Linked DNA regions of Homo sapiens: region 1 is linked to region 2. A link means that fine-mapping ties the variant in region 2 to the expression of a gene that starts in the linked region. Tissue or cell type: subcutaneous fat. Region 2 holds a variant in brackets; the other region holds the start of a gene. All regions are shown on one strand. Distances are between the middles of the regions.

The links.
Region 1: ELAC2 starts here. The variant in region 2 is fine-mapped to the expression of ELAC2 in subcutaneous fat (GTEx, PIP 0.99).

Annotation. Positions count from the first base shown.
Region 1 is chr17:13,014,200-13,022,525 of GRCh38, reverse strand. ELAC2 (elaC ribonuclease Z 2) reads left to right here and starts at 4,499. Exons shown (of 24, transcript NM_018127.7): 1 at 4,499-4,823; 2 at 5,405-5,455; 3 at 5,594-5,664; 4 at 6,694-6,758; 5 at 8,030-8,087. The coding sequence starts at 4,579. RefSeq lists a silencer at 4,382-4,461 and enhancers at 4,982-5,041, 5,062-5,171, 4,683-5,183.
Region 2 is chr17:12,988,262-12,996,575 of GRCh38, reverse strand. ARHGAP44 (Rho GTPase activating protein 44) reads right to left here. Exons shown (of 21, transcript NM_014859.6): 21 at 4,933-6,544. The coding sequence ends at 6,405. ELAC2 (elaC ribonuclease Z 2) reads left to right here. Exons shown (of 24, transcript NM_018127.7): 17 at 1-29; 18 at 598-636; 19 at 764-873; 20 at 1,514-1,613; 21 at 1,692-1,812; 22 at 2,073-2,151; 23 at 2,745-2,889; 24 at 3,531-4,964. The coding sequence ends at 3,758. Among named protein-coding and RNA genes, the nearest start is that of ELAC2, 26 kb to the left of the region's middle. The variant G/A (reference allele first, on the strand shown) is at 3,340.

The sequences.
Region 1 (8,326 bases), 26 kb before region 2:
ATAAGGCACTTACCATGAATGGAACTTGCAGGATTGTAAGTTGCCTGGGGTGCATCAGTGAGTGAATGTGAAGGTCTAGGACATTGCTGTACGTGACTGCAGACTTTTTTTTTTTTTTTGAGACTGAGTCTCGCTCTGTTGCCCAGGCTGGAGTGCAATGGCACGATCTTGGCTCACTGCAACCTCCGCCTCCCGGGTTCAAGTGATTCTCCTGCCTTAGCCTCCTGAGCAGCTGGGGTTACGGGTGCCCACCACCACGCCTAGCTAATTTTTGTATTTTTAGTGGAGACGGGGTTTCGCCATGTTGGCCAGGCTGGTCTCAAACTCCTGACCTCAAGTCATCCACCCGCCTGGGCCTCCCAAAGTGCTGGGATTACAGTTGTGAGCCATCGTGCCCAGCCCAAAGTAACTTTTGTTTCAAAAACCAATTATCCCTCTGATGCATTGTGGCCATCAAGTTTGGAGTTGTTGGGTTTCTAGGGCTCTAAACCAGAAACACCTCAGACCCAATGAAGACAAAAGCATCTATTATAATGTTTTCCTGTGTGCCCTGGGGCCCCATCCCTGTGCCCAAGACACCAACTTTCTGAGCTTTCTGAGAGCAAGACCTTGTTCATCTTTCTGTACACCAAGGTCTTAGTACAGCATCTAGAACCCTAGAAGAGTGTCTAGAAACTCGTGTGTGTGTGTGTGTGAGTGTACTGAATGAATCAATGAATGAATGTCTGTGTGGAGAAAGCCAGAGGGTATTTCAGACAGGGTCCCAAAGTATGTGTCCCTTGGTCAGATCACCAGATCTTGGGGATCGCAGGAACTGCCCCAGCTTTGTAGGTACAAAAGTCTGATTTATAAATATACCCAAGAGATGGCCACATATGAGTGGACTAGCTTATGGCAACCATACTTACAAGCGTGTACAGAAGAAAGTCAAGTTATAAATTATACCTTTGTAACTACAGGCATATGAAAATGTACTGCTCCCAGCATTCATTGGCCAGATTATTCTGCCTGGCAGCCATCTCTTCATAGGACCCCCCCGTAGGATAATCAGAGGGTTCCAAGAAAGCCTGGACTTTTCCACGTCAAGGGCTCTTTTGCAATGTGACTTTGATACTTCTCCCCTCAAGAGGTAGAATATAATTTTCCTCCCTTTGAATCTAGGTGGGTGCTGTCTGTGTCTTGCGTTGACTTCTGGGCCTAATTCTTCAGAAGCATTGCAATTTCATTTCATCCTTTTGGAGGCTGACCACCATTCAGAGAAGCTCAGCCTAACTACTGAATGTGGACAGTCTACATGGATGGAGAGGCAATGGGAAATGAACCAAAGCACCCCCAGCAGGGCCAGTACCCAGGACCCACACCTGTGAGTGTGAGGTTCCACTCCCATTGAGCCACCCAGCAGCCACTGCAAGGAGCAGAGACAGGCTATTCTTACTAAACACAACCGTGACCAACAAAAGGACTGAAAGTGATTTCAAGCCACAAGCTGCCCATATACAAAATGGATAACAAAAAGAGACTCAAAGCAAGAGGAAGTGGCTGTATTATATTAATTGTTAATATCACTGACTTCTGAAAGTCTGTCGCCTCGATTTCCACTTTCTCTGCTGTCCCGATGGTCAGGCTGCCTCTACTCCAGCAAGTCCAGAGACACTTTTCTGTTTCAGACTCTCTGAACTATCCTTTTGGAGGTACCAGTCACACCAATCCCCTTCAGAAAACACATACATTGTTGTCTTGATTCAATTTTAGGCCCTGCTTAGTTGTAAACTGAAAACCTCATTTAAGCTACTGGCTTGCTTCTAATTTCCTAGTATTTATTGTCTGCCACAAGCCAGACTCTGTCCTAGGAGCTAATGATACAGCAGAGGACCAGATAGACAAATCCCAGGCTCATGAAATTTACATTCCAGTATAACCTCAGATTGAAGAAGTACTAGCTATTGTCTTCATATACCAGGAATAAAAATATGACCCAAAGCATAAGTGCAGAAAGTACACTGGGCCCTAGAAACAACCTAAATAGCATCCAGCCCTCAGAATTTTATATAAGTCGATGACCAAAAGTGATTCCTCCTATAATTTTGAGATAAGTAGTTTGAGATTACCCAACAGATAGATATGCACATAGGGCACCAATAAAATAGAGGAACCAATGTATTTTTGTTTGTGAAATTTGATATATTTTTTAAAAGGATCAAAGCAGTCATCACAGGAAAAAAATCAGTATTTTATTTATTGCACTACACTTTTTAAAAGTAGTTTTAATGAATTAATTTTCTTTTTCTTTTTTTTTTTTTTTTTTTTTTGTAGAGAGTGTCTCACTCTGTCAGCCAGGCTGGAGTAAAGTGGTATGATCATAGCTCACTGCAGCCTCAAACCCCTGGGTTCATGTGATCCTCCTGTCTCAGCCTTCAGAGTAGCTGGGACAACAGGTGTGTGCCACCATGTCCAGCTAATTTTTACTTATTTTTAAATTTTTTAGTATTTTTTGGTAGAGATGAGGTCTCGCTTTGTTGCCAGAGCTGGTTTGTTTGTTTGTTTTTGAGATGGAATCTCCCTCTGTCACCCAGGCTGGAGTGCAATGGTGTGATCTTGGCTCACTGCAACCTCTGTCTCTGGGGTTCAAGTGATTCTCCTGCCTCAACCTCCCCAGTAGCTGGGATTACAGGCCCATGCAACCACTCCCGGCTAATTTTTGTGTTTTTAGTAGAGACGGGGTTTCATCATGTTGGCCAGGCTGGTCTCGAACTCCTGACCTCAGGTGATCCACCTGCCTCGGCCTCCCAAAGTGCTGGGATTACAGGCATAAGCCACCATGCCTGGCCACAGAGCAGGTTTTGAACTACTAGCCTGAAGCTATTCTCCCGCCTTGGCCTCCCAAAGTGCTGGGATTACAGATATGTGCCACGGTGCCCAGGCTTTAAGCAACTTTTAAAAACTATCATTTTTATTTCAAATACTTATGGAGATGGTGGTATGATAATCTTTTCAGTTTGTAACGCCCTCTAACTGTGTAAAGTAGATCTGAAGTGTTTTCCTGACCCTCACTGGGATGGTTATTTCAAGTACAAAACGTTTTCACACCGTGGGTGATAATCTTCCATAAAAAATTTCATATTTGAATGAAAACAGCTCAAGAAATACACTAATGAGCAAAAATATATGGGGAAAGAGGAACGTGTAGTTTTGACTTAACTGAAGAAACCAAGAGGAAACTGGTCTCCATATGAAAATGTGATCCTGGAAAGTCAGGTGTCAAGATTTTCGAGTAGGAATCTACATGACTTGAATCTCCCTTACTTCCTGAATAAAAGTGACATCTTTCAGTATTTATTTAAAAAAATCATATGTCAGTGGAGCTTCCAGGTAAATTATCTTTAAAAAATCATATTTGAGTGGAGCTTCCAGGTAAATTATCTTCCTCTTTTAAGGGAGCTCCCTGTATTTCTAGCGGCTTTAACTGATATCCCTTTCAGTGAGAAATCCTCATTAGCTACATAAGAGGGGACTGGGTGTTTTTTTCAAAAAGCTGGTATTGGGACATCTACCTCTGTGATGTCCCTGGTCAGCTATATTGTCTAGGAGTTGAAACATTTTGTATTAATTTTCTATCATTTACTGGGTGCCTCTTCTGTGACAGTGCCACTCAAAGGTCTATTGATATATTATCAGGTGACTGAATTCTATATTCTGAAGTAGGAGATACTGTTATTGCTGTTATTACATTTTACACATAAGAAAGCTGAGGCTCTGAGAGGTCAAGATCACGCAGCTAACAAATGAGCCAAGACTCTTGCTTTAGAGCTTGTCCTCTATTCTTGCTTTTCTTTCCAAAAAACACTACAATTTTTGTTTTGTTTTGTTTTGTTTTGAGACAGGGTCTCGAGGTGTCACCCAGGCTGGAGTGCAGTGGCGCGATTTCGACTCACCGCAACCTCCGCCTCCGCGCTTAAGCGATTCTCCTGCCTCAGCCTCCCAAGTAGCTGGGACTACAAGCTCGGGACACCACGTAAAAATGATCAAGTTCTAACATGTATGCATACGAATTACAATGGAAATAAAATTAGCAAAGCGCTTATGCTAATGCTCAATACAATTGATTTCCTCACATTTAATCCTCACAACCACTACAACCACCTCTAACTCAAGCTCTGAGGGACTGACGTGCCCGGAGGACACAGCTCTTATCTGGTGAGAACAGGAGCGTTTTAGCGAAACTCCAAACTCCTAGGTCCCGCCTTCCCCAGGAAGGCTTTTCCTGGCACTGTGCTTCCGGAAGTCCCGCCCCAGGAGAAAAACAGCTTCCGGAAAAAATTGCGGCCGGCAAACCGGAACAGAACTAGGGGCGGGGCCGCTTGAGACGCTCTAGTATTCCTCTACTCTATGGCCACTGTCAATTGACAAGTCCCGAGCGGTAAAGCTCCTTTCTATTGGATGAGCAGCCTCGCGTAGGCGGGAAGCTCGGTGCACGGCGCGCTGATTGGCTGGATCCGCCATGCGGAGCGGCTAGGTGGTGCACGGGAAACGCGGGCGTAGGTGACCGGCGGCTTTCTCAGTTTTGGTGGAGACGGGCGCATGTGGGCGCTTTGCTCGCTGCTGCGGTCCGCGGCCGGACGCACCATGTCGCAGGGACGCACCATATCGCAGGCACCCGCCCGCCGCGAGCGGCCGCGCAAGGACCCGCTGCGGCACCTGCGCACGCGAGAGAAGCGCGGACCGTCGGGGTGCTCCGGCGGCCCAAACACCGTGTACCTGCAGGTGGTGGCAGCGGGTAGCCGGGACTCGGGCGCCGCGCTCTACGTCTTCTCCGAGTTCAACCGGTCAGTCAACGAGCCACGCCCCGTCCCGCTGGGCCCTCAGTGCGGCGCAGCCTCTGAGCATCGGGGCACCTCCCAGGGCTTCGGCTTCCCTGCTTCACACATGTGGTTCACTGTTGCGGGGGTTCGTGGAGTTATGGTGGGTGGGAAATCCGAGATTCTTTGCATCCATGTGATTTCTGCGGATCTGTGAAGAACTTCAGGCCTGGGTCTGAGCGTCCTTTTCCCAACCCTTGGGCCCCGGCCTGGCTGTCAGCACTTTCGGAGCTCCACCCTCTTCCGTGCACCCCAAGGCCAGTGTGTCGTTGTTAGCGTGTGGGGTGGACAGATCTGGTGTGTAGCCGGTGGTGGAGAAAGGACTCATTTTGTCCTAGCACCCACACACACAGGCCCCCACTCCTCTCCACCTCTGCTAAGGAGGGCTCAAAACCCACCAGCATAAATGTGGCTCGGTAGTCCAACGTGGACTTTTAATTTTTTTTTCTTTTTTTTTTTTCCAGAGTCTACAATAAAACATCTAATTGGTGTCAGAGAGTTTACAGAATAAAACCTTCTGAATGTCTTGTGTAATGTTTGTCTTGTAGGTATCTCTTCAACTGTGGAGAAGGCGTTCAGAGACTCATGCAGGAGCACAAGTGAGTCAGTCTCTTGCTTTCGGAGGGGGAGTTGATTACGGGGCTTGAAAGCCGAAATGAGAGGCCAGTTGTTTTTTATAGCAAAAGTGGTCCTTGTTCTGTTCATGTTATCCTGTTTAAATGTTTTTTCATTCTTAGGTTAAAGGTTGCTCGCCTGGACAACATATTCCTGACACGAATGCACTGGTCTAATGTTGGGGGCTTAAGTGGTGAGTATATTCTTTGCAGTGTCAGAGGCTGGTGGGAAGTCTCTGGGATTTTAACCGGCTTTACCATTTTTCCAAGTCTGGGGTGGGCAGCTACTTTTTTTTTTTTTTTTTTTTTTGTCAGTGGCGTGATCTTGGCTCACTGCAACCTTTGCCTTCTGGGCTCAGGTGATCCCCTCACCTCAGCCTCCCAAATAGCTGGGACCACACGTGTGCCCCATCACACCTGGCTAATTTTTTTTGTATGTTTTGTAGCGACGGGGTTTTGCTATGTTGCCCAGGCTGGTCTCAAACTTCTGCGATCCTCCTGTCTCGGCCTCCCAGAGTGCTGGGATTACAGGCATGAGCCACCGCACCTGGCCTGGAATTCTTTTTATACCAGCCCAGTCAGCAGCAGCACAGAGCATTAAAAGCTGTGACTCAGGAGAACAGATTTTAATATGGATACCACCTCTTAAGTGTTACCATCCACTTAGTTTCTTGCGTTGCGGGGACAGAGATTTGTGGCAGTAAACTGGAGAGTCTAGCAGTGGTGATTACAGTTAATATGTTTACCGCAGACGCCATTGGCACATTGGCAGCCACACACATACCCACTGTCCAGATTACCCTGTCATTTATGTCTATCAACCGGAAGGTCAGGATTGTGTTGCAGCCAAATTGTGTGGGCTTGGTGGCATGGACCGGAAGGAGTGAAGTGTTAGACCAGTCTCCCTTCTCAGGGCTGAGACTAGGGTGAGGCACTTAGGGTGCCAGCCCTTCACTTGCATGATTCCTTACATTTTGCACACTGGGTGCCTTGCTGCTTCACCCTAGTGACAGCTCAGCCCATTCTAGAGGCATTTAAAGAATATTTGGTGTCTGTTACACCTCTAGCTGGCATCACTTCTGCTCTGTACATCTTCCCTGGTTGTACTTCCAAAGCTGGAAGGTGGAGATGTAGATAAATAGTTGGATTAGTACGGGGTGCTCCTCCTGTTAGTGACGACAGGTCAAATTGATGAGAGATCTGATTTTATGCATCCTTTTTAGGAATGATTCTTACTTTAAAGGAAACCGGGCTTCCAAAGTGTGTACTTTCTGGACCTCCACAACTGGTGAGTCTTTCCTGACACATCTTTCAAAAGCAATCTTTCCTTTTGTAATATCAGTAACAAGAATTTTCCTTTTTGCAAATCAGTCTTCTGCCCTCCAGAGATACCTGGTCGTTGAAACGCTTCCCCTTTCAAGTTAAAAAGACTTGAGTTCTGATTAACTATGTGACCTTGATCAAGTTACTTTACCTTTCTGAGCTTTAGTTTATTCATCTATAAGATGACTATCACGTTTCATAGAGTTGTTAAAGATTAAATGACGTAGCAGCACATATAAAGCACTAAATCACTTTATTAGATATATGTTTGGCACCAAGTAGGCACACAAGAAAGGGCAGCTTTTGTTTTTATTCAATAAATTTCTGACATCTTCTTACCTTTCAGTCCAGCTTATTACACTCTTGAGAAGGCGTGTGTGTGTTGTTGAATATAACAGTTCATTTTCCAGTCCTTAAGAAGAAAGTCACCAAGACCTGTTAAGTCTTTCCCCAAAATAACGTTTGAAATCCATCCATTTGTCTCTTATTGAGGCCTTCCTTATTTCTGTTTTCTATGCCTGTAAACTACAATAGCCTCCCATATTCATTCTCGCCTTCCTGTAATCCATCTGCCACACAGCAGCCAGAGAGGTCACTTCAAGACAGAAAAGTAGTGTGTCACTTGCCACCCTAAAGCCCTTCATGGGCTCCCCATTGCAATACAATCAAAACACCTTGATATGGCCTACAAGTCCTGTAGGCCCCGGCCGCTACCCACACTTCCATCTGTACCCATCGCTGAACTGCAGCTGCATGGGCTGACTCTTATGTCCCTCTAACTCCCTGGCCACTTCAGGACTTTCGCCCTTCCGCGGGTTCCCTCTGCCTCTTCTAATTGCTGCCTATATTGTTACTGAACCTTCAGGGCTCAGCTAGAGGGTCATTTACTCCAGAACTGCCTCTTCTTCTCTAGACAAGTTGGATCCCAGCCTTCTGTATTTTTCATTTTCCTTGCAGAGCACTTAGCATAATGCCACTAAGCTGTTTCTGTTATCGTGTTTCCTTTTGTCTCCTCCACTGGCCTGATTAGAGCAAGGCCTCCATCTCTTTTTCCTGCTATATCCTTGGCATCTGATATAATGGATACTCAGTAAATATTTGTAATAAATGATGTTCAAAATATTTACTAAGCTTTGTTTTATGTTGATACCTATTGGTAACCTTTTAAATACTTGAATAGTTGCTGTGTTCTACATTTGTTCAACCATAACTGCTCATTTCTTTGTTTTTCATTAGGAAAAATACCTCGAAGCAATCAAAATATTTTCTGGTCCATTGAAAGGAATAGAACTGGGTACGTCTTTGTCTGTGACTCATCCTCTGCTATTTCTAACTTATATATGCCCTGACCTCTCAAATTAGAATCCATTAAAAACATCAACATCAAACCTCAAAATCAAATGCTTCATCACCACGAGATTTTTTTTTTTTTTTTTTTTTTTGGATAGAGTCTTGCTTTCTTACCAGGCTGGAGTGCAGTGGCATGATCTCGGCTCACTGCAACCTCCACCTCCTGGGTTCAAGCCATTCTCC
Region 2 (8,314 bases):
TGTCCCACCTGCACGCAGATCACCACACGGTGAGTGTTGGGCTGGACCACAAAGCTGGAGCCTGGAGGAGGCACTGCCACGTTGAGTTGGCCCTTTGGCTGCGTCTTTTCCTCCGCTTCCAAACTTGCCCAGAGCTTTTGTTACTCATCTCTGGCTAGGAAATGGTTTTTTGCAAAACTCAACATAGTCCTTCTGCGCCACAAGAATGTCTTCTCTTCCTGTTCAGTTCCTTTCCTGCAGCAGGACAGGTTTGAGTTTACCCAGCCTTCCTTGAGTCTTGAATCTCACACGGCCTGCTCAGCGGAAGCTTTGACCGGATGCAGGAGGTGTGGCTATGAGACCCTCACCTTGGTCTCCTGGGGTGCCGGGCCCTGGGCCGTTGCCCTCTTCCCAGCACGGGTCGTGTCGCTTTCTGCCTGTGACATTTCAGGGCCATGGCGCAGGGGGCTCGGCCTGTGCCACCCCCACTGCGGCTGTGTTAGAGGCTGGTGGGTGACGTCGGGCTGGCAACTCCTGCAAGAGAGAGGGCTGCAGACCCTAACCCGGAGGGGATGGCCCTGGGGCCTGGCTGACGCATGTCTCCTGTTTCCTTGCCAGGGCTTGCCAAGTATCTTGCTGCAGAGAGAACGCGCCTTGGTAAGTGTGGCACTTGATGGGCGTTCTGAGTTTCAGCGGTTTACACATCATCCGCCATGCCTCTTGGCACTCCAGTTTTTATTGAGATGTTCTGTCGTCGAGTCGGCACTTGCATTTTTTGTTCCAGGCATCTTTGGGAAAGCCGCTTCACCCTTTGCTGGTGGTTGCCCCCAACCAGCTCAAAGCCTGGCTCCAGCAGTACCACAACCAGTGCCAGGAGGTCCTGCACCACATCAGGTGAGCATCCAGGGCAGCCTGGCCCGCTGGGCTGTTGCTTGCTGCCGTCTCCTTCAGAAGCTCAAGGTGGACACTGGGGTAGTTACCAATATCCCCCAGCAGCCTTGCCCTTGACATGGTCCCAGATGGCAGAAGCAGGGGAGAAGTGCATTGGCTGAAGGACAGAAACCATTAGATAGTTCCCATGTAATGCTTATTTTCTTAGAAGCATTTCTTCCCAGTCCTCATTTGAGTTCTGAGCTGCTTTCTAAACTTCGAGCAGCTTTTCTTGATGAGACAGTTCCAGAGCCAAGCACCCAAATAGTGGCTAGCACAGAGAATGTCCATAGCAGGTGTGTGGCTAGCTGGCAGGTGGCACCATCCTCACCCCAAGGGGAAGGAGTCCCCTCTGCTGGAGCCATCCGTGGCCCGTGCTGCCTGAGCCGGAGGCAGCATTCACCTGCTGGGTTTCTCCCAGTGGCCTAGAGGCTTTGGTTTGGCTCTTTATATTTGACTGCTGTTTCCTCATCATAGTGACTATGATTTAACTCATGTTTTCTCCTAAGAATGATTTTGGGGTTCTCCAGCCAAAGACTTAAACTTTGGTTCCAGATGTCCAAGAAACGTTTATTATCATTTTAAATGTTTTGTCTTTTTACAGTATGATTCCTGCCAAATGCCTTCAGGAAGGGGCTGAGATCTCCAGTCCTGCAGTGGAAAGATTGATCAGTTCGCTGTTGCGAACATGTGATTTGGAAGAGGTAAGGGGCACAGCCGCAGGCATCATGGGGGCGAGGTGGGGAGCAGAGCTGCAGAGCCCTCCAGCCCCACCCTTTCAGTTTCAGACCTGTCTGGTGCGGCACTGCAAGCATGCGTTTGGCTGTGCGCTGGTGCACACCTCTGGCTGGAAAGTGGTCTATTCCGGGGACACCATGCCCTGCGAGGCTCTGGTCCGGATGGGTGAGTAGAGGAAGAAGCAAGCCACCCTGAGGTTGCTCTGGGGTTTGTGTAGCTGGAGGTGAATGCAGGTGGGCTTGCAGGGAAACGTCAGCAGAGGCAGGAGACTCAGGTCCCCACCCTCAGAGTCTCTGGTTGTCATCCTAGTAGGCAGACCCAGGGCCAGGGGAGCTGAGTGTTGAGACCAGGAAACAGCACGTGACTGAGGCCTGTGTGCCGCTCTCGCAGAGAACTCTGCCCTGATCCTTGTGCTGCTTCTCCAGGGAAAGATGCCACCCTCCTGATACATGAAGCCACCCTGGAAGATGGTTTGGAAGAGGAAGCAGTGGAAAAGACACACAGGTAGCAAAGGCCGGTCAGTCCTTGTCGCCCACATCCTCTCCCTCCCCCACTACGTGACACTGAGCAGCCGTCGTTTGTCTCCACTGATGTGGGGCTGCCCTGCTTCCTATCAAGGGCTATGGGGGCTTCCTTGACCTGTGGCAGTGCTCACAGGCTCTTGGCCTTTATTTTTGCAGAATTTTCTAAGCAAGATTCTAGAGTGAGGCACAGTTTTTTGAAAGCATCTAGAAATCGGCTGAATAAACTATAAGCCATGTCAGGGAATTGCCAGGGGAAGGCGGGGGCTGGGGGACTGAATTTTTGGCTGCTAATTTCAACGAAAGAGTGCATTACCCCAGGTGGGCCCTGTGGTTTCTCTTGGGTGCCCTCATGGACAGATTTGGCAGCCAGCACAGAGGGTGGGCTTCATCCAGGGGTGTGTGCGAAGGCTCTGGCCCTCAGGGGAGATTGTGCTGGCTACGGAGGTGCCCGTTAAGAAAACCCACCAGCTTCCCCGGGTGCCCTGGCAGTTGATGGCCAGGGTCTGTGCCACTGTCTGCTTTGCAGTCTTGCAGTTGAGTTCAGCTTCAGTCTGCTCTGTCCTTCACCTGCAGCACAACGTCCCAAGCCATCAGCGTGGGGATGCGGATGAACGCGGAGTTCATTATGCTGAACCACTTCAGCCAGCGCTATGCCAAGGTCCCCCTCTTCAGCCCCAACTTCAGCGAGAAAGTGGGAGTTGCCTTTGACCACATGAAGGTCTGTATGTCACACGGACAGCACAGGGCGGGGACGGGGCAGGGAGACAGGACTCTACACACTGAGTAGGACGGTCAGCTGGAGTTTGCTTTCTTATTTGGGGCCACCGTGGGAAAAGGTTATCTACCCATCACTAACCAGGTCGAACCACCCTGGGTTTGCTGGTGAGACCCACCTCCTGCAGGGGCCAACTAGTCTTCAGTCTCAGTTCACTGGAAATTTCTGAGAATCCTTTTAGGCCTGGACTGCTCACACAGTCATGGCATTTGAGCCTCAGCACAGACCTGTGAGACAGGTGGTTGCCTCTTGTGAGTGGGAAAGCCAGGCCTGACCCTTGGCCTTCCGGAATGAAGGGGCAGAGCCGGAGCCAGGCCTCGTTTTTCAGGAGCTTGATTTTGAGAGCATCTGGACTGCTCTCCCTTCCCTCTCCGGAGGCCCTTAGCCAGGCCT[G/A]GGGAGCCTCTGCCCCTTTAGAGGGTTCCCTCCATGCCATTCTTTTTTCCATTTCAGCTGTGGCCTGTTGGCTTGTGCCAAGGAAGGGGCGTTGGCGCTGCTGTGTGAGCACATGACTGCATCCCTTCCAGCTCCTGTCCCCCACCCCTGCCCCTCTGAGACATGTCCTTGTCTTCTATTGTGTCTTCTAGGTCTGCTTTGGAGACTTTCCAACAATGCCCAAGCTGATTCCCCCACTGAAAGCCCTGTTTGCTGGCGACATCGAGGAGATGGAGGAGCGCAGGGAGAAGCGGGAGCTGCGGCAGGTGCGGGCGGCCCTCCTGTCCAGGGAGCTGGCAGGCGGCCTGGAGGATGGGGAGCCTCAGCAGAAGCGGGCCCACACAGAGGAGCCACAGGCCAAGAAGGTCAGAGCCCAGTGAAGATCTGGGAGACCCTGAACTCAGAAGGCTGTGTGTCTTCTGCCCCACGCACGCACCCGTATCTGCCCTCCTTGCTGGTAGAAGCTGAAGAGCACGGTCCCCCAGGAGGCAGCTCAGGATAGGTGGTATGGAGCTGTGCCGAGGCTTGGGCTCCCACATAAGCACTAGTCTATAGATGCCTCTTAGGACTGGTGCCTGGCACAGCCGCGGGCCAGGAGGCTGCCACACGGAAGCAAGCAGATGAACTAATTTCATTTCAAGGCAGTTTTTAAAGAAGTCTTGGAAACAGACGGCGGCACCTTTCCTCTAATCCAGCAAAGTGATTCCCTGCACACCAGAGACAAGCAGAGTAACAGGATCAGTGGGTCTAAGTGTCCGAGACTTAACGAAAATAGTATTTCAGCTGCAATAAAGATTGAGTTTGCAATTGTGAGTTCTTTTGCTTCCTCCTGCTGCTGCTACAGAGCAGGGTCTGCTGTGCACCACCTTGGAGAAGGCTCTCTGTGCTGTAGTGTGGCAGCTGCCTGGTACCCGGGTGGCTTGGAAGAAGTCAGCTCCCGTCGTAGTGAGCACCTCTGGAACCTGTCCTCAGAGAGCCACCCTTATTCGCCAAGTCTTTTTGACAACTCGAGCTGTGCCAGCTCACAGCAGGGCGTGCTTTCTCTATCAATCAATCAATCAATCAATCAAATCAATCAGTGAGAGCCTGGCTGGGCTGGTGTCATTGGTCAGGGAAATGCAAGTCTTCTGGTGGTTCTGGGTAAAAGTGGAGACAATAGATTTGCTGTGTTGTTGCTTCCATACTGAGAGGAGTGAGGATCACTTTGCCCTCGAAGGTTTTGAGAAATGGCACACGGGGCTGGTTTCCATTGTCCTCCTTGCGGGATTTACAGACGTGGATTAGTGCTCGACAAATGGAGAGCATTTTCCAAGGAAGTAAGTAAGTAAAGTAAGTAAGTAAGTAAGTAAGTTGAATCTAGTATTTATTGTGTATATTCCCTACCCAGGAGAATGTAAAAAGAAGAGCTTTAAAAACTCAAAAGACAAGCAAGCGAGAGATCAGCCAGGGACCTGGCTTTACACAGGTGGTGACCTTCAGGCTCCATCCCGGTGTGCATTTGAGATTGACGGCCATGTCCCCGCAGGTTTATTAAAGCAAGAACAGATGCCAAGCTCAGGGATAATAAATCTATTTTAATAACGTTACTTTTGACAACGATTTGTACATGTATTTAAAGATAACAACTTTCAACCCCCACCCTTACCCCAGACTCCCATTACAAATTGAGGCATGACCTGCCCTTGCCAGGAAGTGAGCAAAGCTGCAACATCAAAACTCTGCACATCCCACTCTCAGAGGAGGGTGACTTTACACTGTGTTGGGAAAAATAACTAAGCATTTAAATTTTTCATTGTACACCTGTACATTGGTTTAGATTGAATGGCTCAAATTAAACAAATATAGAGAGATTTCATATATACAAATATTATATCATGTATAGGTATATTATATCATCTATTTGAAAAGGATAAAATTTTAAACTTTGACTTTGCATGCATGGCCCAAATCTTTTCTCACTCCCCTAATCCCCAAGTGTGAAAAGGCTACCCGGTGCCCTCCCGGCCCTCGTCCCCATGACCAGATGGGACTTCATGAGAAGGAAATGAGCGGCTGACGCTGGTGAGCAAAGCAGGCCACACCGCAGGCCGAGCCCGTGGGCCAGCGTCTCCGTGGCTGGTTTCACTTTTCCTCCACATGCTTTGGGTAACGTAATTATTGCTATTCAGTTTGAACCTCCAGAAAGAAGAGACAGGCTCCAGGACCCCACAGACTAGTGAACTGGGTGCCTTTAGGTACGTAGAGGGGTAAAATTACTCTCATATAGCCAATATATTTGGGGACAGGGAGGCCACCTTTGGCTCCTCCAGACACTGTCAGGCTTGTTTGTTTTGTTTTATAGATTCAGAAATATAAAATGATATAGGAGCTTTCAGTCACACAGTGGAAAAAGGAAAACTGTTAGGAAGTGAAACATTTTTGTTTTCAGCCATTTACTTTGGAGCCCACTGATGGGGGCGGCCTGAAAGGTTTTCCAGTGGCAAGCCCTCCCCCAGGTAGCTGGCAAAGGTCAGTGCCCCAGGACTGCTAGAATCCTGGACCTGGTCCAGTTGTGGGTGAGAGGGGCCCTGCTGTCCTGCTTCCTTTCTGTGGCCATTAAACTGATCCTGCAAGACCTGACATGAGCCGTCCAAGGAAAAGGTAGCAGCCCTTGGGTCTAACCAGGCAAAGTGAGCCTCTCCCGCACCACCCCGACCCTGCAAAGGACGTTCCTGACCAGCCTTGGATGGAGAGGTGGGTGTTTTCTGGCATGGAGGCTGAAAGTGGATCAAAAGAGGCACAAAGTCAAAAGGCAAAGGTCAAACAAAAGGCCGAAGTCACCACCCGAAAGGAACAAACAAAACCTGCACCACCAGCATCACCACACGGACTGGAGATCACAATTTTCTGCCAAATTCCAACCTCGTGTTGGCAGTGGCAGGAAAGAGCCAGCAGAGAACACTTGGCAAGCTCATGGACGCTGCTCCTGGCGGCGTTCCTAGGGCCCGTGATGTATGTACACGCGAGGCAGGATGGGCGGTGTCATGTCAGAGGGCGGTGCTCTCAGACTCCTCCTCCGAGTCCCTCTTGTCAGTTACTGAGTGTCGCCGCATGTGCTCCAGGGGACTCAGGCGGAGCGTCGACCCGAGCTCTATGTGGATCGAGGGAATATCAAAGTGGACAAGATCTGGAAGGCGGCAGAGAGAGAGGTGGTTGAAAGGAGGCTTCCCGGCAAATGAGAACCTAGTTGTAGGCAAATAATGTCAGCCTTAGGAGGCAGGGGTGCTGCTATTCTAGGGATAGATCATTTGGAGGTTGGTTTAAGCATTGTGTTGCACAGTCGATCAGGTTGTGCTCATGCCTGCTTTGCTTCTACCCCATAAGTTCGTAGAACCAAAGCACCCAGGATACGCCACTGTGGTTCAGAGGAAGGCCAGAACAGCACTCCCCTGCCAAGCCACAGGGTCCTTTATTCTTGATAAGAAGGATGCTGAGTAGGTCTCAATGACACCTTTTTGGGGATCTATATCAGACGACTGCATTTCATTCCCCAGAATCTGCAGGGACAGGACGTGAGACAGTGGACCCCTTTCTCCTCTCAAGCCTGTGAGAGAATGGGGAACCCTGAGCCAGTGTCCTCACTCTAAGAAACAGCTGCATTTTGGATGGCTGACATGGGTGGAGTAGAAGGTCTCCCTCAGGACCCTGGTTGTCATTGGTGCCAACTGTCCCTGACTGCAGGACAACCCCCACCTCTGGTTACATCCTTATTTATTAGGAGCATTAAAAGGTCATTTTTCCCGGCAAGATGAACAGGAGAAATGTACTTGAAATAACAGCTCAGTGTCTGGACGTCTCTGAGTCGGCAAAGACGACAGAAGTCCTTAGACTGGCAGCTGAGTGGACACGAAGCCTCTTTGCCACACCACGTTAAAAAAAATCCCCTTGCTGCTGCAGCCGCCGCCCTGGGGGACACTGACGAGGCTGTGCTTGCTGACTCCTCCAGGATGTGCTACAGCCAGAGAGCCAGAAAACCACAGATCCCCTGGGTCCTTTACTCTCGTCATGCTGTCCCCTTCCTCCGCCTGCTTAGTTTTTTTTTTTTTTTTTTTTTTTTGGGGGGGGTGGAGTTTCGCTCTTGTCACACAGACTGGAGTGCAATGGCACAATCTCGGCTCACTGCAACCTCTGCCTCCTGGGTTCAAGCGATTCTCCTGCCTCAGCCTCCCGAGTAGCTGGGATTACAGGCACCCACCACCATGCCCGGCTAATTTTTTTTTTTTTTTTTTTTTTGGTGTTTTTAGTAGAGATTGGGTTTCACCATGTTGGCCAGGCTGGTCTCGAACTCATGACCTCAGGTGATTCACCCACTTCAGCCTCCCAAAGTTTTGGGATTACAGGCGTGAGCAACCACGCCCGGCCTGCCTGCTTAGTTTCTGGCCGTCACTTAGCTTTGCAAGGCTGGGAGCAGCACTCCAGGAGGCAGAGGAAGGGAACACATGTTCAGACTGGGGAATACCATACTAAGTGTACAGACATACATTTGGACACTGTCCTGAAAGACATCATACAAACATGGAAGCTCTTGAACAAAGGTCCTCCCTTGCCCCAACCCCCAGGCAGCCCTCACGTCCTTCCAGTCTTTGTTTTGCTGCCTGATGGAGAAGCAGAGATTTGGGGCGTGGGGCTGGAGGAACAGCCAGTGCCACTTGTTCCTCTGAAGCAGGTGGCCTCAGACCCACCTCTGCCCTTCCCCAGCTACTTGGGTCATGTCTCTACACAGGTGTGAGGCTGAGTGGCCCGGGGCCCACCTCACTGTGCAGGGTTCGCTATCAGGTAAGAGCACCAAGCTCCCCTGCTTAGATTCAAAAATCCCAAATATGTCAGGCAGGAAGAGCATGACCTTGGACAAGTTTCCTACCTTCCCTGTGCCTCAGCAGTCAAATGGGAATAATAC